Regions from separate parts of the Homo sapiens genome. Here all the other regions are reported to be linked to region 1. Evidence: microRNA targets listed by miRTarBase, many of them from high-throughput screens and not tested one by one. Region 1 holds a microRNA gene; each other region holds the end of a gene's coding sequence.

Region 1 (5,222 bases):
GGTTCAAACAAACTGTAAAAATCTCATTAAAATATTGATAATTGCCAACTTAAACACTAGTGCGATATTTGATGATCTTTAGGAGTTATTAACTTTTTTTTTTTTGAGGCGGAGTCTTGCTCTATTGCCCAGGTTGGAGTGCAGTGGCACAATCTTGGCTCACTGCCACCTCTGCCTCCCAGGTTCAAGTGATTCTCCTGCCTCAGCTTCCCAAGTAGCTGGGACTACAAGTGCATGCCACCATGCCTGGCTAATTTTCATATTTTTAGTAGAGACCCGGTTTCGCCATGTAGGCCAGGCTGGTCCTGAACTCCTGACCTCAGGTAATCCACCTGCCTTGGCCTCCCACAGTGCTGGGATTACAGGTGTGCGCCATCGTGCCCAGCCTATTGTTAACTTTTTAGATATGCTAACGGTATCATGGCTAAGTTTGAAAGAGATAAAGTTTTTATTTTTTAGGGATACAAATGGAACTATGTACCATTTAGATGAATGGTACGAAACCTAGAATTTGCTTTAAAATAATAGGAGAGGGGATGGAGGGTTGAGGTATTTATAAAGCAAGATTAGCCATGGGCTTAATCATTGCTGAAAGTGGTCCATGGGCTCATGGTAGTTTGATATTTTCCATAATAGAAAAGTTTAAAAACATTCATTGGCCAATCTATCTGTCCATTTCTTTTAATATTAAAAACATTAATTATTATTAGTAGTATTATATTAATATGAAGTCTCACTTTGTTGATTCACCCAATCCCTTTCATGAGAGATGTGGAGGTTGGTCTTGGCTGTTAGGAAACGTAGATTCTAATCCATTCAACAGCCCAGTGATTTGAGAACTTCAGCTCTCTGGGTCTCCCTGTACTCCTTTGGAAAACGAGAGACGAAGTTGATTGTTGCAGTGGGGATTTGGGTCCTGCAGTCTGGCTGTCTGGGTTGGAATTGAGCTTCGCCATAGGTACCCTTGGGTAAATTTACTTAATCCCTCAGGGTTTCATCTTCCTGTTTTGTAAAATGTAAATAACAATAACGCTCACCTCGAAGGGTTGTTGTGAAGATTACATGAACGATTTCATGTATTCATTCCGTCAACATTGAACACCTAGTCTCCAGCTCTGCGAGGGGAATGGGGTGGAGTGGCACAGAAAATACGGGGGCCAGGCTGTTTAGCGCCTAAAGGGAGAGTCCAGATCACCCATGGTAAACACGAAATAAGATGCAGTATTTCAAATAGCTAGAACTGAGACGAAAATACAACGCAGCAATTTGATGGAGAGCAACTTCGAGAAAGGTGAGCTGCAACATTAACTCGGCTGATCTGGGACAGTCTGGCGGGGGAGGTGACATCTGAGCCCCACCTGACTTAGAGGATGTCAGCTATGGATGATCCGGGTTTCCACACGCAGCAGTTCTCAAGCCAGGTGACTGCACCGCCCTAAAGTTCCCTCCACTTTTGGCAATGTCTGGGGATTTTTGGTTGCCAGCAATGGGAATTGGGGGGTTTGTTCTTGTATCTAGTGGGTATAGGCTAGGAACGCCGCCCAGTATCCTACAGTGCACAGGACACCCCAAGCCCCCCCAAATTAGCTGGCCCAAAGATAAAGAGAGAAGAGCAAGGGCAAAGGTCCTGCAGGAGTCAGAAAGGAGCTTGCTGTGTTCAGAAAACTCAAAATCCAGTGTGGCTGAGTGAGGACGACGAAGAATGAGGTAGACTGGGCTAGACTATGGAGCACTTTTTACGGCACGGTGAGGAATTTGGAATTATACTCAAAGCAGTGGAAAGCCCTTGAAGAGTTTTAAACAGAAGGGGAAGGTAACCCATGTGAAACGCTTTGCATATATAAGCGCTCAATAAATACTGTCTATTATTAATATTATTATCACCATTGTGTCTACCCTACTTGGCTCCAGACCCGGCCCATGCCTCAGCGAGGCCGCAGTGACTCCTCCTGGCCAGCAGAGGGCGCCAGCGGACACTTGGCTACCGGCCGCCCAGGGCGGGCCTCCTCTTGCCGTCCCCTTCCTCGTCTTTTCCCCTCAGGAGAAGTCGGGAAGGTGGCGGCGGCGGCGGCGGTTGTCCCGGCTGTGCCGGTTGGTGTGGCCCGTCAGCCCGCGTACCACAGCGCCCGGGCCGCGTCGAGCCCAGTACAGCCAAGCCGCTGCGGCCGGGTCCGGCGCGGGCGGCGCGCGCAGACGGAGGGCGGCGGCCGCGGCCAGGGCGGCCCGTGGGACCGCGGGCCCCCGGCGCAGCGCTGCCCGGCTCCCGGCCCTGCCGGCCTCCTCCCTTGGCGCCGCGGCCATGGCGGCCAGCGCGAAGCGGAAGCAGGAGGAGAAGCACCTGAAGATGCTGCGGGACATGACCGGCCTCCCGCACAACCGAAAGTGCTTCGACTGCGACCAGCGCGGCCCCACCTACGTTAACATGACGGTCGGCTCCTTCGTGTGTACCTCCTGCTCCGGCAGCCTGTGAGTGCGGGGCGGCCGGGCGGGTGTCGGGCCCTTCCCGGGAGGTGGGGGAGCGGGCGGCGGGACCGGGACCCTTCCGGGGCTGGGAAAGAGCCGGGTGCCGTGGGAGGCGGTCGGGGGCGGCCGTTGGGCGCCGGCTGGCGGGCGCGGCGTGGGAGGCTGCGGGCTGGATGCGCAGGGCCCGGGCAGCCGGGCTGGGGATGCGTTTTCGGTTTTGCCGGGCGAGGGTTTACGTTCTGGGCAGCCTTCGTGGGTGGGACGTGGGCGGGGTTGGGGTCAGGGAGGGGGCGACCGGGGCGAGCGTCCCTGGTCTCCGTCGAGCCTGCGGCCGCCGCCCTCGCTCTCCAGCTACCCGGGGCGCCGGGCTGTGGGGGGTGGGGGAAGACGCTAGGAGGCCGGGGGGGAGGTCCATGCGGGTCCTTTGTGTGCCCCGCCTCTCAGCGGCCCGGGAGCCGCGGTGCGGAGCGAGGCACCTGCTGGGCGCTCCTGCTGGGGGTCGGGGAGAAGCTGGGGTGGGAGGGAGGGACGCCTGCCTCGCCCGTGCCTTTTTTCTGGGTCGAGAGTACCTACGTAACTGGGAGGAAGCAGGCACTTAGGAATAGTAGCAGGATGAAAGCATCTTGATGGCAGATGTGAATCCCCTGGGAAAAGTTCGAAAGGATTAATTGCGGGAGGGGGAGGCAGAGGAGCAGATTTGAAGCTGTGGGATTTTAGTTTTATGGTCCGAAGAGAGTGTTGAGGAGTTGGGGGAAAGTTTTAATGGCAATAAGGTACCCACTAGGAGCTGTGTGATTCTAAATATGATGGAGTTATCTGTGAGATTTATCTGTATCTCGCTATCAATACCCGAGTGCCCTGGCTGTACACAGAAATGAGGAGAGCTAGCAAGTCACCATGATTTCAGAAAGACACTACCGTCCTGAGTTACTGGGATGATTTGTGTTTGTTGTTCTTTGCTTCATTAAGCTTTATTTTGATAAAGATTTTTATTGCCGTGCAATTTCATTCGGAAAATTTGCAGGTGGTTTTGGAATTGATAAAATGCTTTTATATTATTATCTTGTATTTAAAGTTACTAACAACGTGGCAGTTACTAAGTATTTTTAAAACCTTTGCTTGTAAGATTAATACAAAGCACATAATACTTTATGTGGGAAAATTGATTTCTTAAAACTTAGAAAATGCAGAACATGTCTAGTATGTACTATTTGCTTTTTAAAGTTGGGCAAAGAGGCATTATTAGTATTACATGAGTGTTATTTCTTCAGCAGACATTTTTTTTGGTGCCTATTAGGTTGTGTAAGGCCCTGGGGTGTGCCAGTAAATATAGCAAAGTCTTGTTCTCTTGGTTCTTACAGTCCAGTGGGGATGCAAAAGTAAGAAAAATGTCTTGGGCAAGTACTATGCTGAACATGAAAATTGTTTGATAGGAGAGTGCTCATGGTTACTTTTAGGCTGTGTGGCCAGGGAGACACTCTGAGAAGTTGCCAGTTAATAATATTCTCGAATTACTACAGAATCACAGAGCTAGGTGATATCAAGGAGGTAGCCTGGTTCATGCATTTCATTTACAGAAAAAGGAGTTAAGCTAGAAAGTTGTTACTTACGTTGGACAATATTGGTTCCAAAATGAAGCCAATAGAACAATTGTAATTGTATTTGATTTTTATTACATGGTTAAGATGTATGTCCTGCTTTTACTAAACACAGGTCCTTTAATCCATGTAAAGTATTTGATTTGGAAAAAATACATATATTTACACTTCCGGATTTCTGACATTTCTGTGTAGTCCCTGTAAGTACAGCAGCAAATGTGTAATATCAAGGACATATTTTCAAATTTCTTCCTAGATACCACATTTCAGAAACATTGTGCATAAAAGGATATCTCAGTATAATGACAATTATTTATCTTAATGGAACTTAATCTGTGGCAGATAGGACTTCATTTCTCTATTGAGTCATTCCACAAATATTTATTGCCTACTTGTCCTGTGTCATAAGTTACCTGGATCTTAACTGTTCTATGGAGCGTGCCTTGTAAGTATGTAAACGTAGAGTTACAATATATTGTAGTATTTCCTTTCTGTGAATGAGATAGCCAGGAAATATGTAAATGATACAGCTTCTCTGGGAGTTGATGCCTGAGCAAAGACCTTTAACGAGAAATTCTGCTTCATATGTTTGAAAGATCAAGTACTTATGAGCTAGGTACACATGGCTTTGAATCCTGACTCCAAGTATTAGTTATACGGTATTGAGAATGTCACTCAATCTATTTGAGCTTGATTTTTCTCTTATATGAAACAGTGAGGATAAGATTTCCCTTGTAAGTTTTGGATGTAGATTTGTTTTCAGTATTAAAAATAATGTATGTTAAACATCTCACGTAATGCCTGGTATATAGCAAGTGCCCTATAGATGAGAAGCATCAAGGAAGAGGACATGCCATGAGTAAGGGAACAGTACTGTATGTGAAAGATATTAAATAAGAAATATCCTAATAAAAATCTGTCACTTTGGATTTTATGGTTGTAACTCAAAACCGGAATCTAATTGGTTTAAAAATATGAAGGGTTTATTGATTGATTTTAAAGTAAAACTATACAGTGGCTTAATAATATTGCCTAGATTTTCCTCATTCGAGCATGGTTGTCCCCAGCTCCTGGGTATACTGCCTTAATTATGTCGTTGGTCCAATACTTTCAGAAGTTCTGCATTTCCCTCTGATTGGGTTAGCTTAGATCATGCCACAA
Region 2 (5,222 bases), not on the chromosome of region 1:
AGTTCCTCCAAAATGAACACTGTGGAATATATGCTGAAAAATGACATAAAATGCTGATAACTGAAATGAAAGAGGTCCTAAATAGATACCTCATGTTCATGGATTGGAAGACACAAAATTGCATTCAAAACCCCAGTAGGATTTTTTGTAGATACAGAGTAGCTAATTCTAAAATTCATATGGAAGGCAAAGAAACTAAATTAGCCAAAACAATTTTGAAAAAGATTTCAAAAAAATTTTGAAGGAATCATGCTGCCCAGTTTTAAGACTTACTATAAAGCTGTGATAATCAAGGCAATCTGGTATTTATGAAAGGATAAACACATAGATCGATGGAATAAAGTCCAAAACCAGACTCACATAAATAGCAATTGATTTCTGACAAAGGTGAAAAGACAACTCAATGGGGAATGGAGAGTTTTTCAACAGACGATTTTAAAACAACTGAACATCCATATGCAAAAAAATAAACCTACCTAAATTTCACAGCTTATACAAAAATTAACCTAAAATGGATCACGGATCTAAATGTAGAACTAAATTTATAAAATTTTTAGAAGAAAAAAATCCATAGGCCGGGCACGGTGGCTCATGCCTGTAATCCCAGCACTTCAGAGGCTGAGGCGGGCAGATCCGTTGAGGTCAGTTCAAGACCAGCCTAGCCTATATGGTGAAATCCCAACTCTACTAAAAATAAAAAATAAAAAAAAAATGGGCTGGGAGTGGTGGTGCACACCTGTAGTCCCAGCTACTTGGGAGACTGAAGCACAAGAATCACTTGAACCCAGCAGGCAGAGGTTGCAGTGAGTGGAGATTGTGCCACTGCACCCCAGCCTGGGTGACAGAGTGAGAATGTGAGTCAAAAAAAGAAAAAAGAAAAATTCCTCATGACCTGGGGTTAAGGTTCCTAGACATGACACCAAAAACATGATCCACCAATGGCATGATGGATAAGACTTCATCAAAATTAAGTCTGTGCTTCAAAAGACACTATCAACAAAGTAAAGAGAGAATAGGAGAAATTACAAATCATATACCTGGTAAGAGACTTGTACCCAGAATATATAAAGACTCTTACTACCCAATAAGACAACTAAAAAAATGGGTAAATAATTTGAATAAACACTGCTTTAAGGAAGATACACAAATAGCCAATAAGCACAAGAAAGAATGCTCAACATAGTATCAGAGAATAGCAAACCAAAACTAGATAGAGATCCCATTTCATATCCACTAGAGTGACTAAAATCAAAATGTCAGGTAAACAAGTATTGGCAAGGATGCAGAGAAAATGGAACCTGCATACACTGCTGGTGGGAAAGTAAAAAGATGTAGCTGCTTTGGGAAACAATGACAGCTCCTCAAATGATTAACATAGTTATCATATAACCTAAAAATTCTACTCCTAGGTAAGAAATGAAAACACATATGCACATAAAGACTTGTACACGTTTATAGCAGCTTTAGTCAGGACAGCCAAAGGGTGGAAATACCCAAAATGTCCAACTTACAAATGTATAAACAAAGTGCTACAGCCATACAATGAAGTATTTTCAGACATACTAATGAATGTGCTGATACATGCTCGAATATAGATGAACCTCTTAAGACATGTAAAGTGAAGGAAGCCAGTAACCAAAGACCACGTATTATGATTCCATGTACATGAAATGTCCAGAATAAGGAAATCTATGAGATGAAAAGAGGTAGTATGGATGGCGGGGGATGACAGGAGAAGGATAAAAGCTAAACTATACAAGGTTTCTATCTGAGGTGATGAAAACATTCTAAAATTGATTATTGGAATGGTTGCATTTATCTGTGTATATACTAAAAGCTACTGAATTACACACCTTAAATGGGTGAAATGTATGTTGTTACAATAAAGCGTTTTTCTTAATTATATATGATCCCATTTATAACATGCTTGAAGACAAAAATATGGAGATGGGGATTAGATCAGTGGTTTCCAAGGTTTAGGGGCTGGGAGTAGGGTGTGTAGAGTACAAAGAGAGCACGAGAGTTTTTACGGTGATTGAACTCTTCAATACTCTGACTGTGGAGGTGTTTACACATATCTATACTTAAAATTCACCAAACCATACACCAAAAAAGTTAATTTTACTTTACTCAAAAAATTTTGTTAAATGTCAAAGAGAATAAAATTAAAAGAAAAATAGCCTCTTCCCCCGACAATTCATTCCTAAAATGAGCAAGATAGGAATCACAGGGTGAATGGACTGCCATGGCCTGGAGTGAGGTATTAGGGTCCAGGCAGGATGAGGAGGACATTCCTGCTCAGCATAGGATGCGAAGCCTAAGCAGGGTGAGGAAGACATTCATGTGGGGAGATGACCTACAATAGAGAATCAGGCCAGGCGCAGTGGCTCACACCTGTAATCCCAGCAATTTGGGAGGCCCAGGCGGGCGGATCACCTGATGTCCGGAGTTCGAGACCAGCCTGACCAACATGGAGAAACCCCGTCTCTACCAAAAATTAAAAATTAGCCAGGTGTGGCAGCGCATGCCTGTAATCCCAGCTACTTGGGAGGCTGAGGCAGGAGAATCGCTTGAACCCAGGAGGCGGAGGTTGCAGTAAGCCGAGATCGCGCGACTGCACTCCAGTCTGGGCAACAAGAGTGAAACTCCACCTTAAAAAAAAAAAACCCCACAAATAATCAAATAGGAATCAGGTTTCTCACTGGTACTGAAAACGGTTATAAATGTGGAGAAGGAAAAAATGAAAATGAAGCCCATGGGATCAGAATTTATATGTGAATTCATGGTTTTCAATATACATAGATGCAGAAATATAGATGTAAAGACATGCATTATATATACACACCAACGGCAATTGCACACTAGCACAGATCTTGGCTTTTAAATATTACTCACTAAAGAGAACCCAGGCTCTACGGAAAAATGGCTGATTCTTGGGTTAGGTCGAGGACAGCATGAGAAGCCTGGTATATCTTATGCCAGAGAGTAACAAATTCATTGAATAATGATGGGAATGTGTCAGAAGGACACAGAGGCCACCCAGAATGGACTTCTACCAGCCAAATGTACAATAATTTTGAGCACCAATGTAATGATAATAGGTTTTTTAACCTGCTGAATAAAATAGAAAATAATGAGTTTATAGAGATACGATAAATTTAAAGTCTGATCAGAAACAAGGTAGTATTTTGCAACTATCTTCTCAAGAAATAATTATAAAAATAACTACAGTGGAGAAGTCTGGCAGACACTACCTTAATCAGTCATCTAAGAAACACCATCAGAAATGAGACAAACTGAAATTATTAAACAATGACAGGATGCACTTCTATCACATTCCTGCCAAAGATGAATAACCTCAATCTAATCATGAAGTATCAGACAGAACTCAAAATAAGGGGTGTTCTACAAAACTAGCCCATAATTGTCAAAAGTACTAAGTTGTAAAAGGAAACAAATGAGAATTTGTTCCAGAATGAAGTAAACTAAAGACAGCTGACATCTAAATGAAAGGCATGATTCTGACTGGATCCTCTTGCTATATGGACATTATTGGGACAATCAGTTCAATGTGAATGAAGTGAAGATCTGAGGATTAGAGGGTAGTAATGTGTCAACGTAAATTTCCTGATTCTAATGGTTGCATTGTAGTCATGTAAGATAATTTGAAGCAGATAGTAATCAGTAATGAGGAATCATGTCTTCAACTAAATCACAAATGGTTCAGAAAGAAAAAAATTATCTGTAACTTTTCTATGCATGAGATTTAAAATTTTTTCAAGAGTTAAAAAGGGCAAAAAATAAAAAGGACATAAATAGGATATTGAATAAAATGTCTATAGACAATTCCTACCTATATGCCTAAATCACTTACAATCAAAATGATGCCACTGATATACAATTAGTGACCTTACTTTGCTTTCTGCCACAAAGGACTCACCTAATTACCATGATCACACTTCTCTTTTGTGTTAATCCACTTCTATTGTTAGGGTTTTAACTATTTTTAAACTTCTTGACATAAAGTAATCCCTCAAGTAATAATATTCTAATTAAGAAATTTACATTAACTCTTAATTTACTTAAAATACATTTATGGACTTTTTCCTTTATTAAAATTGTTTTCAGCACTATAATTTTGTGTGAATTGTTATACTTAGACAAAGGGGTACACAATTCCTATTTAGAAAATTTTATTGAATATCATACTTATCAAAAGAAAAAGTTAATTTTCCCCAAAGGCACCCTTCATTTCACATGATCTATACTCTAATGTTCTTTTGTATTAAAAATATGGTTAAATATGGAATTAGTAAAATGCAGCATATAAAACTTCATGCTGAGCAAAAACAAGTCCAAAACAACTTTACCATATATCCATAGAATAGTTCCCACAGTACATTTCCTATGTAAATTATGTTTGAATGCAATTTTTAGAACCATTTTAAGATACATTTTGCAATCTGTTAACTGTAGGCATCCGCATTTTTCTTCCATTACATAATCTGTTTATCTGATTAAGTTGGCAATATCTGCTAGGATCCACAGAATGCAGGAAAAAAAGCAGTTATTTCTCAAGGTTTGAGAAATCTGGTCCACCTTTAGTGTAGTTTCCTGAGATTTCTGCTCCACTGAAGTCAAAACCAGGATTCTAAAAGATACAAACATATATATAATGAAATAAAACTTATAAGGAAAAATACAAGTACAAACTGGCAATTGATAAAAAAGGATATATAAATGACCAATAAATACATGAAAATATAACAGACTTCACTGTTACCACCAAAGTAATATTTAAAATTATGAGGCATTTTTCAACTCTCCCAGTTACAAATATTTAGACATCATATGTACACTACAATGTTGGCAAGTGTATGGGGAAACATATACTTCAATAAAAGTCTGTAGTTATATTTAATAGCTAGCATTTTTATTTTATTTATTATTATTTTTTTTGAGACGGAGTTTCGCTCTTGTTGCCCAGGCGGGAGTGCAATGGTGCGACCTCAGCTCACCATAATCTCTGCCTCCCAGGTTCAAGCGATTCTCCTGCCTAAGCCTCCCGAGTAGCTGCGATTACAGGCATGTACCACCATGCCTGGCTAATTTTGTATTTTTAGTAGACACGGGGTTTCTCCATGTTGGTCAGGCTTGTCTTGAACTCCCAACCTCCGGTGATCCGCCTGCCTCAGCCTCCCAAAGTGCTGGGATTACAGGCG
Region 3 (5,222 bases), not on the chromosome of region 1:
TAGAGATGGGGTTTCTCCATGTTGCCCAGGCTGGTCTCAAACTCTTGGGTTCAAGCAATCTGCCCACCTTAGCCTCCCAAAGTGTTGGGATTACGGGCATGAGCCACTGCACCCGGCTGAATTATACATTTTAAACGGGTGAATTGTACGGTATATGAATTATATCTCAGCGAAGCTGTCACCAAAAAAGCTCATGTATAAATAAAATAACTTAAAATTCTGAAAATAGTTTTATTATGGAAACAAAATAAGGAGGGTAATTAAGCATGAAATAATTTCCTTCTTGATAAAAGTATATTGATTATTACAAAATTTGAAGTGTTAGTTTATAGCCCAAATCTTTCAAAGAATTTGTGTCTGCTGAAATGAACTTTGATCCTTTGCAAAGATGCAACTTTAGTTACAGGAGGAACATATTTAATCTAAATACACATTGTCACAGATAAGACTCAGAGGATAATATATATAAAGCTAACTATACTCATCTGTGTTAAATAGCTATACAAAGCTACTAACTTAAAATACGAAAGGGTTGTTTATGAGACATTTCAAACTATAAGTTTGGAATTCTTGTTCCTTTGTGATACCATTATTCTACTAAATACATATAGTGGTTAGAAGTCCAGTGTACCTCTTACAGAACAGCACATAGGATTAGATATGCCAAGATTAAAATGTTGCACATTTTAGGAAACTCAGAAATAATTCAAAGACGCCTTTATGCTAAACTCAGCAAATTTGGTTCCAAAATTTCCTTTATTATGAAAAAGTAAGTATAATGTTTAGACATTAATGTACAGAAAATAATTGTCATATATATTCCTTTATAATTTTCACACCTGTTTATTTTAAAGTGTTAATTCTACACATTAAAAAACATACTAATGAGATCCTGTTTGAATAGGAAATTGCTAAATTTTACTTGCAACTTTTTGTAGCTATAATTCTAATACACATTGGGATCTAAAACTATTAGTAAACAGCAACAATAGAGACTACGTATTTTTTAAATTGGGCAAATGAAAGAAGAATATATTGAGATGTAAATCAGGAAGTAGTTATTTGCGTTACAAATATGCAGATTAATTAATAACATACACCCTTTAAATACTAAAGCATTTAAAATAAGTTTAACAAAAAAGGCAATTTACACTTTTTAAAACCCCATCAGTTGTATAAAGAGAGGCACTACTTTTATCCACGAAAAGCATCAAAATTTTTTAACAGTTCAAAAATAGGGGCCCAAAACAACTGATTTATCAGAAACAAAACAATACAATGGCTATTCACAGTGTAAGAAATTAAATCTATTTTTTAAAGCATGTTTTTCAGTCTCAATTTATAACACACTTTGACTTCCATTTCTGCTTTTCCTTAAATCAATCTGGACTGTGTGGAAGAATGCCGTAACATGAAGCTATTAGCAATCTGGGTTAATGTTCTACAAAAAAAATATGCTGCCTATATACACAGAAAGTAAATGAAGAAAAAAGTTAGCACTGAAGTACAATGCATACTCCTTAGGTTCTTAAACTCTACCAGTCTAACAGAAAGCACCAAGATACAGATGCCAAAGTCAGAAAAAATACAAAGCAGCTCAGAATCAATATCATATATCTTATTCAAGGTAAATTTTATGTTAGATTCTTTGTCTGGCATTTGGGAGGCTAAATTAACTTAGGAGGCTAGAGATCCCATCTCTACTTTTTTTTTCTTTTTGAGATGGAGTCTTGCTCTGTTGCCCAGGCTGGAGTGCAGCGGCATGATCTCGGCTCACCGCAAGCTCCGCCTCGCCGCTTGACGCCATTCTCCTGCTTCAGCCTCGGAGTAGCTGGGACTACAGGCGCCCGCCACCCTGCCCGGCTAATTTTTTGTATTTTCAGTAGAGACGGGGTTTCACCGTGTTAGCCAAGATGGTCTCGATCTCCTGACCTCGTGATCTGCCTGCCTCAGCCTCCCAAAGTGCTGGGATTACAGGAGTGAGCCACTGCGCCTGGCCTCCATCTCTACTTTTAACAAAGACTTGCGCCGGGCGCAGTGGCTCACGTCTGTAATCCCAGCACTTTGGGAGGCTGGGGTGAGTGGATCATCTGAGGTCAGGAGTTCGAGACCAGCCTGGCCAACATGGCGAAACCCCGTTTCTACTAAAAATACAAAAATTAGCCGTGCTTGGTGGCAGGTGCCTGTAATCCCAGCTACTCCGGAGGCTGAGGCAGGAGAATCACTTGAACCTGGGAGGCGGAGGTTGCAGCGAGCGGAGGTTGCAGTGAGCCAAGATCGCGCCATTGCACTCCAGCCTGGGAGACAAGAGTGAAACTCCATCTCAAAAAAATAAAAAATAATAATAATAATAAATTCAAGGCACTTGTATCAGTGGGTTTGCAGTATCAAGGGCAAAGAACATTTTTTATTTCTTTGAGAAATTCCTTCCACCCAAAACCCATAAATTCTTCTCCTCTCATAGTAGATCTTTATTGTCAAACCTAACAACTGTAAGTTACCTAAGTGGAATTACTTGTAGAATTGTGAATCATTTGTTCACTCTACAAATAAGTGAAGAAATAAACTAAATGCTTTCCACTTAAAGTTGTCTAGTACTATTAACTGCAGTTAAAACAGAAGCAAATAAACTTATCTGTCATATTCAATATTGTCATTTCCATAATGAAGCTTTCTTTTCCTTTTCAACTGATGCTGGATGAAAAATTCATTATTTAAAACATCCCATTAACAATTTTTCCAGATCAATTTTATTTAAAAAATAAGTTGACAGAAAGAAGCAAAAGCAACTTACTAATATGTCAAACAAAACACAAGTACCAAACCTAATTCAGCACAGGTAACATAATATAAATCAACAAAAATTCGATTAAATATTTCACACTAGATAAAAAGTAGGGTGTTCTATTTCCCCTACAAAATATGGAAGCTGACTTTTCAATTACATTGTTTTACATGCTCTAATCACAAGTACTACCATGTGACTATTCACTGTGTGCTTAGGTAACTATGGTTATATTTTCAGAAGGCTTGAAGCAAAATACTAGTGACTCACTATTCAGATGTACAGAGTCAACCTGAGGTACACTGCCTGCAACTATCTTAATATAGTTAAGAAATTACGTATAAAAGTGAAATGAGAACCACTGAAACTAATCTATCAGATATATGACATCACCATCAAACAATTCTTCAGCTCCAAAAGAGCAAAGCATCTGAGAGTTAGTCTAAGAATGCATGTACTTTAACAACACATGTATAACAGAAAATAAAGACAACGGAAAAGCTCCCTTCTAATGTAGTGTACTTTTACAACACATATATAACAGAAAATAAAGACAATGGAGAAATGCTCTCTTCTAATGTAGTAATTTAGAGTACTGAAAATGCAATTTTTGCAGCACTTTAACAAGTGAGAATTATGAAAATCTGTTCACTGAACAGGAATATAAGGAAAAACTAAACATGTATCCCAACTTATTAAAATGACACATCTATAGGCTACATCTATCCTGAATCTCTCTATAAGGCCAAATTAACTTTTCACAATTTTCTCTTAATAAATGATTAAAAATATGAAAATACTTAAAGGAACATAGCATTTAGACTGTGAAACTGTGTTGTAAATTTTATTATAGTTGTCATTTTTTCTTGATGTTGAAGACTGCATCACAGTTTCATAAATAACATTGCTTGTGTTTTATAATATATCTGTATGCAGAGGTACGTTTAACAACATCTGCATGTATCCCCAGAAATTGTTGCTAATTTTAGAACACATATTTTTATTCTGATAATGATTTAATTTTTTTACTTAGTACTTCAGTAGAAAACATGTGAATAGATTGTATGCCCCATATCAGTATTTAAAAAAAAAACCTGAACAACATTCTTTTAAATGTCCATTTAACAAAATATATGTTAACGGTTATTGTTTTATCATGATTAAATTGGTATCAAATTAATAGGCATAAGTGAAAAAACTAATCACTTACTAGTCATTTAGAAAATGCAGTAACATCATGCATTATGTATTACTAAGAAAGTTCTCACTTAACATAAGCAGTAGATGAGGAGAACAGTATCATGAAAATTCTAAATATATCTTTATGTATATCCTTAAAAATCACTTTCCTTTATATAATTTCCATTTTAATTTAAATGCCACATATCTTCAGCTAACATTTAAATTAGTTTTTATTGTAAAACTTCAGTTGTTATACATCATAAAATACCTTCAGAAACTTGCTTGAAGGTCGGAATTATTCTTTCTATTAAATAATTATATCACATTATTTATTAAATGTTATGTTTGAGAAATGTATCTGACCTTGCACATATTCAAATTCAAGATCAATATTATAATAGAATGAAGATTTTATGGGGAAAATATTGCAATCAGTAAAAGTGTTAAAGACCATGTAACGGTAAGGAAGACACCTGTCTGGAATATTGCAGAGTGGTAGATATCACATTTAATCAAAGGACAGTAATGCTTGATCTTCTATTTCCCACAGAACTCTGGATCCAGTTAACAGCAGAAGGGGGAAAGAAGCAGCAATATTTCAAATGTCCATACTCTGATCTGCAAAAGACACCGAGTAGGTAGAAGAAAACTGCATTTTACTTCAGGTAGTCTTTGAAATGAAGGCTCTGTTATTTTTCAAGACTGGAAGGATATCACAGTGTTGATTTTATATACAAAGTAGGATCTGTTCCAGTATACTCTAGTGAAATAATTCACATATGGAGAATAGTTAATTTTGACCTCATGACAAAATCGCCCATATTTTGAGTAGGTTAGCTTGTCACCTTCTTCACAAACCATCTATTAAAAGATATAAAACATAATATTAAAAAGCTTATTAAGCTTATAGCAGAAATGCAATCAATATACAAATGAGTATATTTATATGAAAAAACACATTATTGCTAAACATTGTCTATAAAACATCTCACTGTTAGCAAATAGAAGCCTTCTTCATAAGTGAGTCACCATGCCCACTATACTCCTGAACTTCTCATTGACACTGAGAAACCAGCACAAAGGTTTCCAATTTTTAAAAGATTTAATCCTAAAATTTAGAAGGCAGTGTTTCCATAATCCATTATCATCGCTCCGAAGACCTTATCATGCACCCTACCAAGGCTGAGAAATGAACATATTATATTCCTAAATATATTCACTCTTCTCGTGTAGAATTATTTAGTAAGCAAGGAAA
Region 4 (5,222 bases), not on the chromosome of region 1:
TTCAGTCCAGTGCCTTCCAATGGCCAATGTGGTCTGGCTCTGACAACTTCTCCAAACACATTCTCCATCTCCCTGACCACACCAGTTGCTCACTATCCCTCAAATATGGCACACTTTTTCATCAATATGCTAGTCTCTCTGTCCCTCATGCCCTTTTTCTACTACTGTACTTACTAAACTCTTATAAATCCTTTGACTATGAAGGCTTTCCTGATGATGACTTGCCTTCCAATGGCAGAGTCCATTGCACCCACCCTTTCTCATGTAAAGAAGTCATTATAGGCCTGGCACAGTGGCTCATGCCTATAATTCCAGCACTTTGGGAGGCCGAGGTGGGAGAATTGCCTGAGCTCAGGAGTTCAAGACAAGGCTGGGCAACATGAAGAAAAATTACACTACAAAAAATTACAAAAATTAGCTGGGTGTGGTGGTGCACGCCTGTAGTCTCAGCTACTTGGGGGACTAAGGTGGGAGGATTGCTTGAACCTGGGAGGTTGAGGCTGCAATGAGCTGTGTTAGTACCACTGCACTGCACTCTAGCTAGGGTGACAGAGTGAGACTCTATCTCTTAAAAAACAGTCATTATAATAACTATTTACTAAGAACTTTTGTTTTCAAGTACACGATGGCTTTATATACATCATCTAATTTAATCTTCCCAACAGTCTTGAAGTAGTATATTTATCCCTTTCACAGATGAGAAAAGTGAGGCTTAGAGAGGTTAAGTTAATGCCAGCTAACCTGAGCTTATTAGTTAGCAATGTCTGTTGAGTTTGCCTCCTAAATTTCTCTTAAAGGTTGGCCCTGCCTCACTGTAAATTGCACAGCCAATATTTAAACCCAGATTGGCTTGACTCCAGAGTGTCTGATTTTATCCTGCTGTATTTAGTTAGCTAAATTCTGGGAGTTCCTTAAGGGGAGGAGCTGGATCCTGTTCATGTTAGTACCCCAAACCTGGAAATCAGTACTCTGGTATTGGTTGGAAGTTAGACTTAGTTTTTGACTTAAGATGGAGAAGGGAGGCACTGCACTTAGTAGCCCTAGCAGGTAGTGTGCATACACAGTGCTCATCATTTGGAATTACTTTGTCTGCTCAAGTTTAGATCTCAGTATCTCAATACCATCACTTACTACCTACAGGATTTGGGGCAGGTTATTCAGTCTGCCTAAACCGGAGTTTCTTGAATTGTAAAATGATCGCCACAATAGCACATGACTGTTTTGCTCATGGTTAAATGAGATAAGTATGTAGAGCCATCGGTATGAGGATCCCTTAAATGGTAGTTACCAGCATTTGTCTGTAGTGCACACTTTATCACGAAGCCTGCTGAGAGAAGATAATTCTTGACCATCCAGAAGGATGAGGTCATTTAGGGGTGATTTCCTATGCACCCCTAACACACACATCTGTGTGTTCACAACTTCTCTATATGGTGGTGAAGACTACATGAGAAGTCTCATCCTTGCCAGCATATTGTGACATGAGCTTCCCTGGCAAGTTCCGTGGCAGTGCATGGATCAATCTGGTCATGCAGAGGCCAGGGCACCATACCCAATAGCTTCATTTACAGGTCAAGAATGTTTCTTTTTTTTAACGACACACTTCTCTTTGGGGGTCTTGTTATTGCATTAAATTCCACCATGGTGACCACTTCTCTTTAAGTTTTTGACACTAGTTACAATTCACATAGCTGACAGAGCTGAAAATCATTAATTCTTTCTTTTAATCAGAATTCTCTAGGTCTTTCCCAACCAGATTTTCCTGGATGTCTGCCCAAGACTCACAGTATTATGCATATTGTCTCCATCAGGAGAAAAAATAAAAAATAAAATAAAAACACTATACATTGCATTGGATGCATGTTAACTCCCTTATCATTCAAGCTGGGAAACAACCCCTTGAGGTGGGACCAGCATTGACTCCACTTTGTTGATGAGAAACCTGATGTCAAGTTACTCCCTTAAGGGCAATAGCTGGTGAATAGCAGTGTTGTCAGATTCAAACTTAATCAGGCTCAGATCACCACACCAGCACATTGAGTGCTGTAATTTTCTGCAACTGTTGAGCTAAATTGTTCCTCGGGTTGGGTCAAGACAATGGAAAGCAACAGCAACCTGATAGCTCTCTGAAAACTTGGGACCCAGGCCCAGCAAACTGATAGCTCTCTGAAGGCCCATGTATACCCAGGAAGTGGTATACATGAGAGGCATTTAGAAGCTCCACCTGTATACTTAGAGAAACATAAACCCAATAATAGTAAACTTCCTGAAAGAGTGCCTTAGAGCTTAGATTGTGAGAGGTTGAGAAGCTTCCCAGGCACCAAGGTTGGAAGAATCTCTTTCTGCTTTGTTTTCTTTTGTGTTACCCATTTTCCCCATATGGATTGAAGTCCTGGGGAAAAAAATGCGCTCAATATGTAGGTTATCAGGAAGGGGATTGTCAATCTCATCAACATTTGCCAAATTGAGAAGTAGGCATGGTTTTTTTCTTTTTTACTCACCACTACACAAATGAGGATAGGCATATTTTGAATGGCTTATGTTTTATTGATATTCAGTATCTTTTCCTCTTCTGAAACCCCACAGTGCTACACTCTCTTCTCTTAACAGGTGTCATCTTTGCATTATGATATACCTGACCTACATCCCATCTGCTCAAGCTAGGTAGCTTATTTGAGCTAATATGAGGGTGTTAAGAATTTATAACATCTCTTCATACTCATTACCCTCCCAGGGAAGGGTACACTGGAAGCAGTGCAATTACCATTTAAAAGGATATTTCAATGATACCTCAATAAAGCTGTTTTAAAAATAGATAAATAAAGGGAGATTCCAGTGTTGGTATGTCACCCCCTAAGCTATCATCACCTCCTTCATGGAAAATGACAATGGCACCCCTCTCTTTGGGGCCTTCTCCAATCCATCCTTCACCCTGTAGTGAGAATGATTTTCTTAAAGAGTAAGTTGACTATTTAGTCATATAAATAGTCATGGATGCTTCAAGGCAGCATCAAGCTTCTTGCCCAAAGCTTCCAATGCCTTGCCAAGCTCCCAGCCTCACCTTTTAACACTTCCTATTTTGATCCCTACTCTTAAGGAAAGTTTTCAGTCCTTGAAAGAGGTGTACTGTCTCTTGTCTCTGGGCTTTTGTTCATATCTCTTCTTCCTGGAGCAAATTCCATCTTTTTTTTTTTTTTTAAGTTGTCACCTAGGCTGGAGTCCAGTGGCTCCATGTCAGTTCACTGCAAACTCTGCCTCCCAGGTTCAAGCAATTCTCATGCCTCAGCCTCCCAAGTAGCTGGGATTGATTACAGGCACGTGCCACCATGCCCTGCTATTTTTTATTTTTTGTATTGTTAGTAGAGACGGGGTTTCACCACATTAGCCAGGCTGGTCTCAAACTCCTGGCCTCAAGTGATCCACCTGCCCTGGCCTCCCAAAGTGCTAGGATTACAGGCATGAGCCACTGTGCCTGGCAAGCAAATCCCATCTTTTTCACCTCTCTGTCTGGCTTATTTCTACTCATCCTTTGGGTTTAGGTATCACTTTTTCAAGGAAGCATTTCAGGAGCCCTCCAGTGTGTCTCATGCTCTAACAGTGAGTGCAAAGAACCTCCATTCTTCCTCTAGCACAGCTTGAAATGACCAGACTCCTTCTCTATAATTTCCACTGGGCAATAAGTTCCCTGAGGGAAGGAAGCTTCTCTGTCTTTAGTTGCATATGCTCTGTGACTGGCACAGGGTAGATACTCAATAAGTGAATAAACAGAGGTCTCTCAAGCACATTCCCTTGGTAAGAAATACCACCCAAGCAGAAAGAGAGACAATAGGAATTTTTAATGCATGGACAGGCCTGCAGGGACTCTGGGCAGACCCACAGGTAGCAGGAAGAGGCAGGGTCCCACAAACTCAATAATGTCCAGCAAAAAAGAGAGAGAAGTCCTTAAAGACCCATGCTTCCTCACTGCAACCATCCTCAGAGCTTCCTTCCTGGTGCTGAAGAGGTCAAAACTGTCTCCTCTAGGGGTCAGGTCAAAACTGTCCCTCCATAGGTCTCCTCCAGGGGTCCATGGCAGGAAGAAAGCAGAGTGTGGCAGGAAGAAGGAAGAAGAGCAAAGGCCGCTTGGTCTCCACCTGAAAACTTCTGCCTCGGGATTGACAGCCATCCATAAGAAAAGGTTTAAAAAGGAGAGACTTTTGATAGAGTCAAATAATATCTTTGAAAAAATAAAAGATAGAGAAAAATGAATAATTCCATTGGTTACAAAGGTCTCTGTCCACTATCCACAGGAGAAACCGTTTGCTTTGGCCTTGCTGGCAAGCTTCATCTGCTAGGCCCATCCTCAGCTGTCCCCCAGCCCACCCAGGCCCCAGGATCCAGGAGAATACTGCTCCCCCTCCCATGGAGAGTCTCTGTGCTCACGGAGGGCAATACCCTCCCTCACCGGCCCTTGGACTCCCCGTACGTGTTTCGGGCCATTGACACCATCTTCTCCTCACACGTGATTTTGGTGTCCTTGAGGATGCTATACCACACCATGCCTGCAGGCCGGACCTCCTCGCTGCGGCAGAAAAGATAGGGCACTGTTTCCACGCGGCTCTGGATGTAGGCACTCCGCAGGAGGCTGGAGCAGTGGCTACTCACCCTCTCCAGTCGCCGTAGAATCAGGTGGGCCTTCCTGAAAGGTAGGATGAGACAGCCATGATTAAAGAAGTCCAGATCAAGAGTTAGACCTTTGAGGTAGTAAATGTCAACAAACAAATGGTAACTTCTCCCAACCATTTCCTATCTACTCCAGATTGGAGTGTGGTACTTCAAACACTGATTCAAAAATTGCCCTAGAACCTATCTTCTTCAATTGTGCAATGTGTTAAAAAATGAAAAAGAGGTAGAGCCTTTAACCTAGTATTTTCACTTCTAGGATATGGGAGCCCTAGGAGTTCAAAGGTGACCAGCCTTGGACTCTGATCAAATAGGTATTATTATAATGATTAAAAAGCAACAAGAACAACCAAAAGTTATTGACACCATATGCTAGACACTGGGTATGCATTTTACATATATTTTACATTTTTTATTTAGCCTTTATAACTATCCTGAATGTATTGTCTACCCCCTTTTAATGGGTGAGGAGCTCAAGCAAGGCTCAGAATAATGACATTACTTGACTAAGGCAAACATCGAGTCAGCCACTGGAGTTGGGAAGAATCTAAATCTAGGCC
Region 5 (5,222 bases), not on the chromosome of region 1:
TGTTGAGAACAGGCCAGAGCAGGCAGGACCAGACCTACAGTTCTGATCTTTGAGGCTGAGGTTGAGGGTCCATTCCCAGGCCTAAGGAACCTTTCCCTACGGTTCTCTTCTCATAAGAGCTCTGGTAGTAGCTTCTGACCAGGAGGTATCAGATGTCCCTTGATCTGTTTCCTGACGTCCAGTCAGCCTGGGGTCTTTTCCTAGTTTCTGGCTCTTTCTGAATGCATCTACCTTGTCTCTCTCCACTGCCCAGTGGCCTCTAGTCACCCCAACCTGATCCTCTGAAATGCAAAGCCCAGCAATCTCCCCAACCAGCAATTTCCCCAACTGGGTACCCCTCAAGCCTTATCTAAGCCTCCTGTTTATCTGCCTCACTGCTGGCTCCTCCCTGGCCCTACCTGTGGGGCTGCTCTTGAGGGCACTGTCCTGGCTCACCCTCCCATCCTGTTCACAGGTCTCTCTCTTCCCCCACAGGCCTCCACTGCCAGCCTATGGTTGTTCGCCACCAAGCCAGGAGTGCTGCACCGCCCAGTGGTCCCCCTCGGGCTCCAGGCCCCCACTGAGACCCTCTCGGAGGCAGAAGCACTTCACCCCTCAGAGTCCTACAAGTCCAACCAGTGGACCTGGAATTGGCCAAGGGCTCAGGAGAGGGCTGTGTTGCTCTCTCAACCATGTCCGCCCCAGCTCTTGAGGCTGGATCTTTCTACTTGTGCCACTATGGGCACTAGGTCTGTAGGTCCCTGGTGCTTCCAGTACTGCACTTTGCCCCCAAGGTCTTTGACTTCATTTCCTGAAGGGTCACCAAGGGTCAGCTCAGGGCTAGGAAAAACCATTTCCAGCCTTAGCCTAAACAGGGCACATAGATCTCTCCCACTAGAGCCCAGAGGGATGAGAGGAGAGAGCAACTGTTCTTTCTTTTTTTTTCCCTTCCTTTTTGCAGGCCCATGGTCAGCTCTGGTCTAGATGTATCTAGGCTTAGGGAGCCCTGGGACCCTGCCAGTCTCAGTTCATCTCTTACCAGGAGCAAGGCCCTCTGAAGCATGGGCCGTGCCAGCTGTGCCCTAGTGATAAGGGTAAGAGGAGAGATGTCAGGCTCACTGCCCTTATTTCTCTGCCCATTTCATTCTAGGCTCACACTGTCCTTGTCAAGGTGGGCAGAAGAGCAGAGGTCTTCTCTGCACCAACCACTCTCTGCAGATGGCTGGAGAAAGGGTGTGCCAACTCTTCACCTTCTTTCCTCAGCTACGGTTTTTTTTTTTTTTTTTTTTTTTTTGGCAGGGGACAAGGAGCATGGTGGTCTTGGCTATTTGCTTACCTTCCCGTTTCTCCTCTGCCCCTGGAAGGGAATGTGGGGGCCCACTTTTTTGTACATGTACCACCTCCCTTTCCTCTTACTGTACATAAACCTCAGACTCTCCCCCTCTCAACAAAGGCTTGATGCACCAGGCCTGACTTTGTCTCCTCTTTCTGAGCTTAGGGGGCTAGGGTGGCCATTTAGTCTGACCTGGGCTATGGGGATAGAAAAGAAATCTTTGGGGCACTGCATCTGTTTTGGAGGAGATGAGATCAGAACTCTGGGGAAAGGAGAACCGGCTAGGTGGGCTCTAGCCACACAAAGGGAAGCAGGCCTGCCATGAGACACTAGTGCCCTCTGCTGGGCATGTGTCCAGTCCCCAGCCTGCCCCAGTAGCACATGGAAAAGAGTCACTGGCCATGTTATAAATATTGTTATTTAAAAAACAAAAAACAAAACACACGTACATTAGGTCCTGGGTGGAGGAAGAAGTGGTGGAGCCTCAGGGCCAGGGCAGGCAGGAGCAGGCACTGATGCTAGAGGGTGATGACCCTGCCCTCTGCCACCCAGGCTGCGTCCAACAGCCTGTGACTCTTCCCTGGAGACCCCTTCTCTCACACTTTTATCTACTGGCATCACCCACCCCACATGGCATATACCACCCATCTCTGGTCTGGGGCTGAGGGCAAGGACTGCACTAGTCCAGGGAGTAGGGGACCCTTGAACACCAAGAGCAACCTTGAGAGGTGCCAACAATGGTGTGCTGGGGGTGGGGTTACTTTAGAAAAAGTGGACACAGACCAGACTAAGGAAGAAGTCTGAGGCAGACGGTGAGGGTGGCCCAGGAGCCATGGCCTCACACAGACCCGAGGCAGAGAACAGCTCATTGGGTCACTGGTGATCATCCAGCTGCTGTAGGAGTGTCCGCCGCCGCCTCTCCAGCTCACCCTCACTCAGCTCACTTTCTGACGTGTCCCAGCCTGTCTGTTGGAGCAAAGGCACAGTTCACCCTTAGCCTGCACTAAGGGCCGTGGAAGCTTGACCAGCGTGCTGACTGGCCTAGGGCCCCTGCCCCTCACCTTCTCCTTCTTGATTCCAAAGCCTGGGGAACGGTTAGGGAGCTCTGCCTGTTGGAGCTCCCTGTCCTTGTCCTGTTCTTGTTCTTTCTCATCGCTCTCCTTGCCAGCTTTCTCCTCAGGGTCTGTCTCACTCTCAGGACTATTCTGTAAGAGTCCAGAGCCCACCTCCTCAGTTCCTGTGGATAGCCTGGGAGGCAGGTAGAACAGAACTCACAAAATAGCAGGGGCTTAGGTAGAAGTTCCTTCACTCACCGACTTGTGTCTTCTCTTCTTAGTTTTCTTTTTTGGTTTCTTGGCTTTCCGAAGGCCATGATCTAGAGATAGAAAAATCCCTACTAAGTCCCAACAGGAGAAAGACAGGCTCTTTTTCTTTGTTCTAGCCCCTCTGTTCATTCTTCACAGGCAGGAACCTCATGCTCTGAGGAAGTCTAAGTCCAGTTTTCCTTCTCCAGCTTCTTGCTTGGGCAGGTAGAGGAAGTTCTTTCTACTTCCACAGGTGCAGCCCTCCCAATCCAGTCTACCCTCAAAGGAGCTGGGGCTTGTGGAGGGCATCCTCTCAGTCTGGGACAACAGTTCTCCAGCTTCTACGCTCACAGCAACTGCTTACCTGCTCCAAGAAGATGGGAGGAAGGGGAGCCCCGTCCTCCAAGGGCAGCACCCCCACTTTCAACTGAATCAAGTGAGGAAGAGGGCTCAGAGCCTGACTCTGAGGGGTTCCGCCTCCTCCGCTTGGGGGGCCGGAGAGATGGTGGGGGCAGCTCCTCTTCTTCTGACTCAGAGCCCTGGGCAGATCAGCAGATACATGTCAGTGCAGAGGTTCTCTGCCCTCCAGAAGCCCTCGTCTGGGAATTCGAGAGAGGAGGAGGACCCAGGGCCAAAGGAATCCTCAAACTTCCCTCCAAGGGAGATATTGTAAGGGGAAAACAAAGTGTTTATTTCCCCAAAACAACCCAGCTTCACCCCATGTCCCTTCTACACGCTTACTCACTGAGGGTGAGTGGGAACGCTTGTGATGGTGCTTCTTGCCTTTCCTGCCATGCTTTCGGCCTTTGGTGTGGAGGTGCTGGCATTCAGTCTGCTAGAGGCAGAGGAAGAAGGGTGAGGACAGCACCAGACTTAGCCCCAGGAAGGATCCTACTTCCTAAAATCTGGCTTTGCCTCCCTTTCTCAGACTAGAGCCTTCTGCCTATCCCAGGGATCCTCAGGCCTCCCCTTCCTTAGCTGGCCAGGAGTGCCCTAAGGGTAAGAGGGAGGCCACTGAGGTCTCTGTTGAACTGGTCTAATGAGTTCAAGGGCCTGAGGCAGATCCAGAGGACAAGCCTGCCTCACCTCCAGCACCTGTAGGAACTCCCGGAAGAGCCGGATCCGCTCCGACTCCAGGGTGATCTGCTCAAAGGCTGAGTCACACACAAAACGCTCACGGACCTTGAACGAGGAGAGCACTGCTGATCAGACTAGGCCCCACTCAGCCTGGCCTGGACACCGCCATGAGCACAGGGCAGGGCTGGGGCAGAGAAAGGAAGGGAACTGGAGCTGGCCCAGGGCTGTGACGTGACTGGGGTGGGCCCTCAGTGGTGAAGCACCGCTGCCCTCAGGCTTGAGGGGTGCTTGGGGCCAGGCTACGCTCCTGACCTCTTCCCAGGCAGTGCCTAGCTCCAGAGCAGGCACAGCCTGCCTCAGCATGCTTCGAAAGGCAGCTTCCCTGCGCCGCATCCTGCGTGCCTCCTCCTTCTCCCGCTCCCTCTCCCGTGCCTCTGCTTTCTCCAGCAGCTGAGGAAAGAAGGGACACGGAACAGGGTCACCCAGGAGGGTGGATGCCAGGTCCCACTCAGGCATACCTTAGGAGGTGGAAAGTTAGGGTCTGGGCTTCTACCACCATCCCCTGAATTGGGAATATAGTCAGTGGGACAGTGAGTGAGAAGGAATGGAGCAAGACACAGATGAATTAGAGAACTTCCCACGCCCCGCCCAGCCCCTCACACTATTGAAGGTCAGCTTGATGTTGCCTGCGTCCAGTGCGGCAGCCCTCTTGTCAAAGCTTATGACGTGGGCGAAGTCCTCAAAGGCCGTGTTCACCTCCACGCAGAAGCCCCGGTCCTGTGGGTACAGCAGTGCATGAAGCAGGGGCACCACGTGCCTGAGGCCAAAGCTGGCAGGCAGAGTGGTCACATTACAGATGGTCAAGAAGGCCCTTGCCTCTGGAAGAGATCCACAGGACTGTGGTCTGCATTAGAAACCAAGTTATCCAAGTCCTCATCACTTGACAATTAAGCCCCCATGCCTACCCTTGGTTTGGATGTCACACAGAGCTGAAGGGGTTGGGAGATGTCTCCCAACTGCTGATTAATGCTGAGTTTCTCAAAATTAACTTTTGTTCCTTTGGCTTAAAGCTCTGGCCCCAGCTGGGCCCTCCTGCTGCTCAGCAGTGCTTCCATGCATTCTCAATCAACATTTGCTGGCCCCTACCCTTTGGGTCTATTTATTGAGTGCTTACTATGTACCAGGTACCATGATGAGTGTTTCACACATTATCTCATTTAATCCTCTTGGTTCTACATTTAAGAATAGGTCCTAGTATCCTAATTTTACACAGAAGGAGAAACCAAGGTTCAGAGAAACTAGAGCACTTGCCCAAGGTCTCACAGCTGATATACGGCTGGGCAAGAACCCTACCCTGGGGGGGCTCTCTATCCCCAAAGTGTCTGCTTTCAAGCACCACACCCACCCAGATGACTTAGTCCATGGGAGAAACGGAGGCCACCAGGTGTGCAGCTCCCCACCAATACTAAAAACATGTCCACAGGCCAGGCTCTATGCTTCTCATTTAGGCCTCACAACATTCCAGTGAA
Region 6 (5,222 bases), not on the chromosome of region 1:
ATCGTCTTCCTGGCCACGGACATGCACCTCCCCGCGCCGGCTGATTGGATCATCATGCACTCCTGCCTTGGCCACCACTTTCTGTTGGTGCTGAGGAAACAGGAGAGGCATGAAGGGCACCCCCAGTTCTTTGCCACCATGATGCTGATTGGGACCCCCACCCAGGCCGACTGCTTCACCTATCGCCTGGAGCTCAACAGAAACCATCGGCGCCTCAAGTGGGAGGCCACGCCCCGGTCTGTTCTTGAGTGCGTGGACTCGGTGATTACGGACGGGGACTGCCTCGTCCTCAACACCTCGCTGGCACAGCTCTTCTCTGACAACGGCAGCCTTGCCATTGGGATTGCCATCACCGCGACAGAGGTCCTCCCCTCAGAAGCTGAAATGTGAGGCCAGGAGCCACGGATGCTCCCCACACAGCCTCCCTAGGAAACGCCTGGGACCTCCCAATACCAGGACTCCAGACTCCTTTTTATTCTTCTCCTTTCTTTTTTTTTTTTTTAATTTTTAATTATTATTATTTTTTTGTCTCAGGTACTTTGTGAGATTTAGTTTTTGTCTGCCATGGGCATTATATTATGTAAACATCCTGTAATTTAAGATCTTGGTGTGATGTTTGTCCTGCCTTGTTGGTGTTGTTTTATAGAATGTTTGTAAGATTTATTCAGAATAGTTTTTTCCTGTCACCTCCAAGTCCTTTCTCCGCTAGTTTTGAAAGGATCAAAACACCATCAAGCAGACTGTTGGGGTTGAAAGGAGGCTTCGTGTGAGAATCATTTCTTGTTTCTCTTTTCAGTCTATTTCAGAGCAAGCTAAATCTGAACGTGTGCAGTCGGCAGGTTGGGGAAGGGGCCCAGCTCAGAGATGGATCACATTTCAGACCATCCAGACATGACTCTGACAGCTTCCCAGGAACCTCAAGGTCAAAGCTGAGCTAGCCGGGCATGAGGAGATCGTGTCTCCACCGCAGGGCTGGGGACTGGGCTAGAGGTGTCATTGTGTGCTGAGTGCTCAGGTTGATGCTGGGGCTCAGGAGAGTAGTCAGAGGCCCACCTTCCTGTGACGGGCTCTTGTCACCTTGTTCCCAGGCTGTGCCGTCTTCTCCTGCTCTGGAATCAAAGTCCTCAGATTTTTGATGCTTTCTTAAAAACCCCTTTGCCTTCTGTTGAGCAAGTAGTAGAAAAGAATAGGCAAGATGGGGGGTGGGGATGAAAAGCAACAGGAAAAAGAGAACATAAAATTAATCTCCCATCTCTGAGAGGGCACTCCCTCCTCAGAGAGTTTTATTATCAAGTTATAAAATCCATCAGTTCCTCCCTAGGGTGCAGTTCTTTCATATCATGCAAAAAGCAGAACCAGGACTCATCATCAAATGCAAAGAACTCAGAGGGTGGCACCCAGGATCTCTGACCTGGCGGGCTGGTCATCACTTACAAACCTGGGAGGCTCTCTTCCCTTTCCTCACTTTCTAAAATGCTCCTACCGTCCCATTCAGCACGCAGACGTGACCACGGCTCAAGTATGTATTCAGCACCTGTTGCAGTATGAATGACACAGTGACGGAAATCCATATTTCCTCTGCGCAGGCTGCTTTCTCTTATTTGGTTGTCAGAACAATTCATCAACATCTTCTTGTAGAAGTCTCTCGTGTATTTGAAGAAAGTCAGCATGTTTAGTCAACTTTGTCTTTTCTGTTCTAAGTTGGACACCTATAAGCCTTCCCAGTAGGACCTCTTCTAGCTCCTTTTTATCGCATTTGTCCCCCCCCTCTGGCTGCTCTCCAGACACTGCAGAAGTCAGGCACCCCATCCCCAGCACATTCCCATGACAGCCAAATGGGCCTTTGGCCAACCAGACATTACTCTCCGTGCCCTGTTCCTGCACCTCACCCCCTCGGCTTGGTCCTGGCAGGCATCCAAGTGACTACTTAGTCTCAGGCAGGTTGCCCTGGCTGGCCATCTGCAATTTTTTCTCCACCAAAAATAACTGATCCTGAAACACAACACCCTTCCCCCAACAACTGGGTTAATTCTCCAGCCACTTTTGGTGCCAACTTACACCCCCACGCACCAGAAGGGAGGTGCCAGTCGATACAAGATTTAATAACAGAGGCTGCTCTGGTCACACAGTAATCGCTGGGCCCCTGGGGCTGAGACTGCATTCCGTCAGAGCCCTGAGAGGGGCAAAAAACATTGCCACAGATGGAGGCACATGTCAGATGCTGCAGTCGCAAAAAAGGATTGGGGCCTGCGCATTCTTTGAGCTCTCAGATGCCCTGCCAGGGCACCAGCCACCCTCCTCCAATCACACAGATGCCCAAGAACACCTGAGGCTGGTCCGTCTGTGCGTGGAAAGACTGGCTGTCTTCCTCCTCACTGCATCCCCAATCCCCTTCCCAGAACCTAAGACCCCCTTGGCTGTAAGTCTTATGCCTTTAGAAGCCACAGGTCCTCTCCTGGTTTTTGAGACTCAACCACTTTGAAAGCATTTGTGTAGCATCACAGGTGCTCCAGATCAACAAACAAAAACCTCACTAAGAATATAACTAACATTCACAGGGCCTTAGGGCTCCTGCAGACATCACCTTTGCCTTCTGGTTGTGCCAAGTTACCTGAGCCACACTGGGAATGACTTCAGGTTATTTTCACTGCACACAAGACTGTATTATGAATAAGTGATCCCAGATGGGAGCTTATATTTTTGTTCCTAGAAAGCTTTAGGACAAAGCATGGGAAATGTATTATTATCTTCCATCTATGGTGCTCCCCAAAAGGCCTCTCCATATCCATATGTGAAGAACTGGAGAAGAAGGAGCAAACTAACAACCAAGAATTGGGAATAGGAAATGGTACCAGCAGTTTGTATTTGAGCTTCACAGTTCCTGAAGGGCTCTTTGATTTGAGTCTCAGGTTAATCCTCATTAGTATCCTCAATATACTAACAGAATAGAGGTTCTAAGACATGAAGTGATCTTTTCAAGGTCACACATCAGGTGGTTAGACCACAACCAAAACCCAGATCAACTGACTGCAAACTTGGTGTTCTTGAAGTAAGACTGATCCGAAATATTCAGCAGTCTTGCCAGCTTACCAGTGGACTGAGGACCTGAGAATCAACTGAGTCTTTGTCCTGGGATAGTTGAGGGAGCAGGGAGAGAAAGACTGGAGTAGATTTGCTTTTAGAAGCATCTCTGCTTTAAGAACTAGGCCAGGGATGGTGGCTCACGTCCATAATCCCAGGACTTTGGGAGGCCAAGGAAGGAGGATTGCTTGAGCTCAGGAGTTTGAGACCAGCCTGGGCAATATAGCGAGACTTCATTTCTACAAAAAAAAAAATCAGCTGGGCATGGTGACACAAGCCTATAGTCTTAACTACTCGGAGGCCAAGACAGGGGGATGGCTTGAGCCCAGGAGGTTGAGGTCACAGTGAGCTGTGATTGCACCACTTGTAACTCCAGCCTGGGCAACAGAGTGAGACCCTATCTCTTTAGAAAAAAAAAAAAAGCACTAGTCCACCTGGAAGCAGGGGGCCCAGGAAGTGGGTGGGCTGCAGATGGAGGCTTCAGTGCGCCAGGCCCTTTCTGAATCCCTTTGCCCACACCCAGGTTTCTCACCTTAGAGTCCCAGGAGTCCCTGCACAGAACGCTGGGATCTGGTTGCCTCATTCACACCAAGGTGCAAGAGTTAATGACTCACTCTCTAAGGAGTAATTGCCTTTTAAAAGAAGGCCTAGAGAGACAGCGCACTTAACAGTGAAAAATGAGTTACCAGTATCTGAACTTCAGGCATCTGCCAGAGGTTTTTTTCAGGAGGTGTGGAGAGAGGAGCATTCCTCCCCTTGAGGCTGAGCCTACATACATGGTTGACGCCGAAATGGAGGTCAGGCCACACGAAGATTGTCTTTAACAATTGGTATCTGCATGAATCTGTACCTGGTAAACCCCATCACTAGCTGTGGCTACTCTGGACATTTTAGGAATAGATCAGCATAGTAACCATAATAGTACTCATGGCTACCACTTATTGAGGCTTTTCTATATGATCCAGTAGGCTGCGTACTTTGAATATAGTAGATCATGTAATCCCCATAACAACCTTAGCAAGCAGGTGCTCTTTATTGTATTCATGTTACGGGTGGGAAACGTAAGCTAAGAGAATTTAGCCAACTTGCTTAAGATCACCCAGCTAGCAAATGGCAGAGCTGGGCCTGGGACCGGGTACGTATGGCTTCTGACCAACAGCAACCATGTCATTTCTATGAACATATGGACCCAAGGCTCAGAAGGACCGAGTCATAAAGTGTGAATGGCATAGAGGCCTTTTAGTGCTTTCATACTCAATATGGCCTTTTAGCTCCCCTTTTTCTCCCTCTTTTTTCAACCCAAGACCTAGTGGAGTACTAGAGCTGCTTGTATTCTGGTTGTTAATCTTTCAGGAATTTTGCAAGCTGATTGTTAATTAAGTACAGTCAGTATTAAAAATGATATACATTTACAATTAAATAAATTATATTTAAAGCAAAGGTCAAAAGTACTTAAAACTCATCACTTCCTAATTATTTCACTACTCTTTTTATTCTCTATGCTCCTGGGGTTATTTACATCTATCACATCTGTATGATGAACATACTATATAATAATGTGCTGCACCGCATCTTCCAGCTCCACATTTAGTGACGTCATGGTGATTGCTTGAAATTAGCCATGGTGGAAGTATTCATACCATGGAAATTAGCAAATGCTACTAGACAGGGATTTTTCTCCCTAGAAAGCCAGTTGTTAAGCACTTAACAGTATAATCATCCCTCAGTATCCTTGGGGGATTGGTTCCAGGAATCTCGTGGACACTAAAATCTGAAGATGCTCAAGTCCCTTATATAAAACGGCATAGTATTTGTATATAACCTACGCAATCCTCCCATATACTTTAAATAATCTCTAGAGTACTTATAATACCTAATACAATGTAAATGCTATGTCAATAGTTTTTATACTGCATTATTTCTTATTGTTGTATTATTTCTTTTTTTTTTCCTGAATATTCTTGATTCACAGTTGGTGGAATCCACAGGTGTGGAACATGTGGATACAGAGGGTTGACTTAATACCACTGCCTAGACATTGCTGATGAGCACAGCAGGGTGGGAGAGGGGACTTTGGAAGGAGAAGCAAGGCCCTGGAAGGCCGTACTGACAAGGGCATAAATGACAGCCAAGCCAGCGGA

The links. The annotated mature microRNA hsa-miR-5703 reads AGGAGAAGUCGGGAAGGU and lies in region 1 at 2,040-2,057, shown strand. An mRNA with a match to its seed (bases 2 to 7 or 8) in the 3' UTR can be bound and repressed. Matches are read on the target gene's strand: a 7mer-m8 pairs with bases 2 to 8, a 7mer-A1 pairs with bases 2 to 7 and ends in A, and an 8mer does both.
Region 2: miRTarBase lists NUDCD2 as a target of hsa-miR-5703. Seed matches in the 3' UTR shown: 8mer at 3,232-3,239, 8mer at 2,727-2,734, 7mer-A1 at 2,472-2,478 and 7mer-m8 at 1,732-1,738.
Region 3: miRTarBase lists DPY19L4 as a target of hsa-miR-5703. Seed matches in the 3' UTR shown: 7mer-A1 at 3,343-3,349.
Region 4: the mRNA of ASTN2 is a reported target of hsa-miR-5703. The part of its 3' UTR that is shown has no 7-base or 8-base seed match.
Region 5: miRTarBase lists FMNL3 as a target of hsa-miR-5703. Seed matches in the 3' UTR shown: 7mer-m8 at 2,374-2,380, 8mer at 2,817-2,824, 7mer-A1 at 2,947-2,953, 7mer-m8 at 4,102-4,108 and 7mer-A1 at 4,133-4,139.
Region 6: miRTarBase lists SIAH3 as a target of hsa-miR-5703. Seed matches in the 3' UTR shown: 7mer-m8 at 478-484, 7mer-m8 at 1,099-1,105, 7mer-A1 at 1,970-1,976 and 7mer-A1 at 2,030-2,036.

Annotation. Positions count from the first base shown.
Region 1 is chr2:227,470,123-227,475,344 of GRCh38, forward strand. It overlaps MIR5703 (microRNA 5703), which reads left to right and starts at 2,010; the gene lies at 2,010-2,065. AGFG1 (ArfGAP with FG repeats 1) reads left to right here and starts at 2,034. Exons shown (of 13, transcript NM_004504.5): 1 at 2,034-2,466. The coding sequence starts at 2,300. It overlaps LOC124907994 (a long non-coding RNA gene), which reads right to left and starts at 1,977. Exons shown (of 2, transcript XR_007088114.1): 1 at 1,038-1,977; 2 at 666-867. RefSeq lists an enhancer at 947-1,910 and a silencer at 2,023-2,742.
Region 2 is chr5:163,449,400-163,454,621 of GRCh38, forward strand. NUDCD2 (NudC domain containing 2) reads right to left here. Exons shown (of 4, transcript NM_145266.6): 4 at 1-4,651. The coding sequence ends at 4,568. It also overlaps a transcript of CCNG1 not described here. Among named protein-coding and RNA genes, the nearest start is that of NUDCD2, 8.1 kb to the right of the region's middle.
Region 3 is chr8:94,789,352-94,794,573 of GRCh38, reverse strand. It overlaps DPY19L4 (dpy-19 like 4), which reads right to left. Exons shown (of 19, transcript NM_181787.3): 19 at 738-4,828. The coding sequence ends at 4,664. Among named protein-coding and RNA genes, the nearest start is that of INTS8, 31 kb to the left of the region's middle.
Region 4 is chr9:116,421,411-116,426,632 of GRCh38, forward strand. ASTN2 (astrotactin 2) reads right to left here. Exons shown (of 23, transcript NM_001365068.1): 23 at 1,702-4,678. The coding sequence ends at 4,441. Among named protein-coding and RNA genes, the nearest start is that of PAPPA-AS1, 23 kb to the left of the region's middle. RefSeq lists a silencer at 1,321-1,577.
Region 5 is chr12:49,641,156-49,646,377 of GRCh38, reverse strand. It overlaps FMNL3 (formin like 3), which reads left to right. Exons shown (of 26, transcript NM_175736.5): 26 at 475-5,222. The coding sequence ends at 563. PRPF40B (pre-mRNA processing factor 40B) reads right to left here. Exons shown (of 26, transcript NM_001031698.3): 19 at 4,354-4,470; 20 at 4,006-4,143; 21 at 3,703-3,798; 22 at 3,362-3,448; 23 at 2,981-3,155; 24 at 2,626-2,687; 25 at 2,374-2,517; 26 at 1,713-2,278. The coding sequence ends at 2,186. Among named protein-coding and RNA genes, the nearest start is that of PRPF40B, 20 kb to the right of the region's middle.
Region 6 is chr13:45,778,551-45,783,772 of GRCh38, reverse strand. SIAH3 (siah E3 ubiquitin protein ligase family member 3) reads left to right here. Exons shown (of 2, transcript NM_198849.3): 2 at 1-5,222. The coding sequence ends at 390. Among named protein-coding and RNA genes, the nearest start is that of SIAH3, 71 kb to the left of the region's middle. RefSeq lists enhancers at 1-123, 124-624.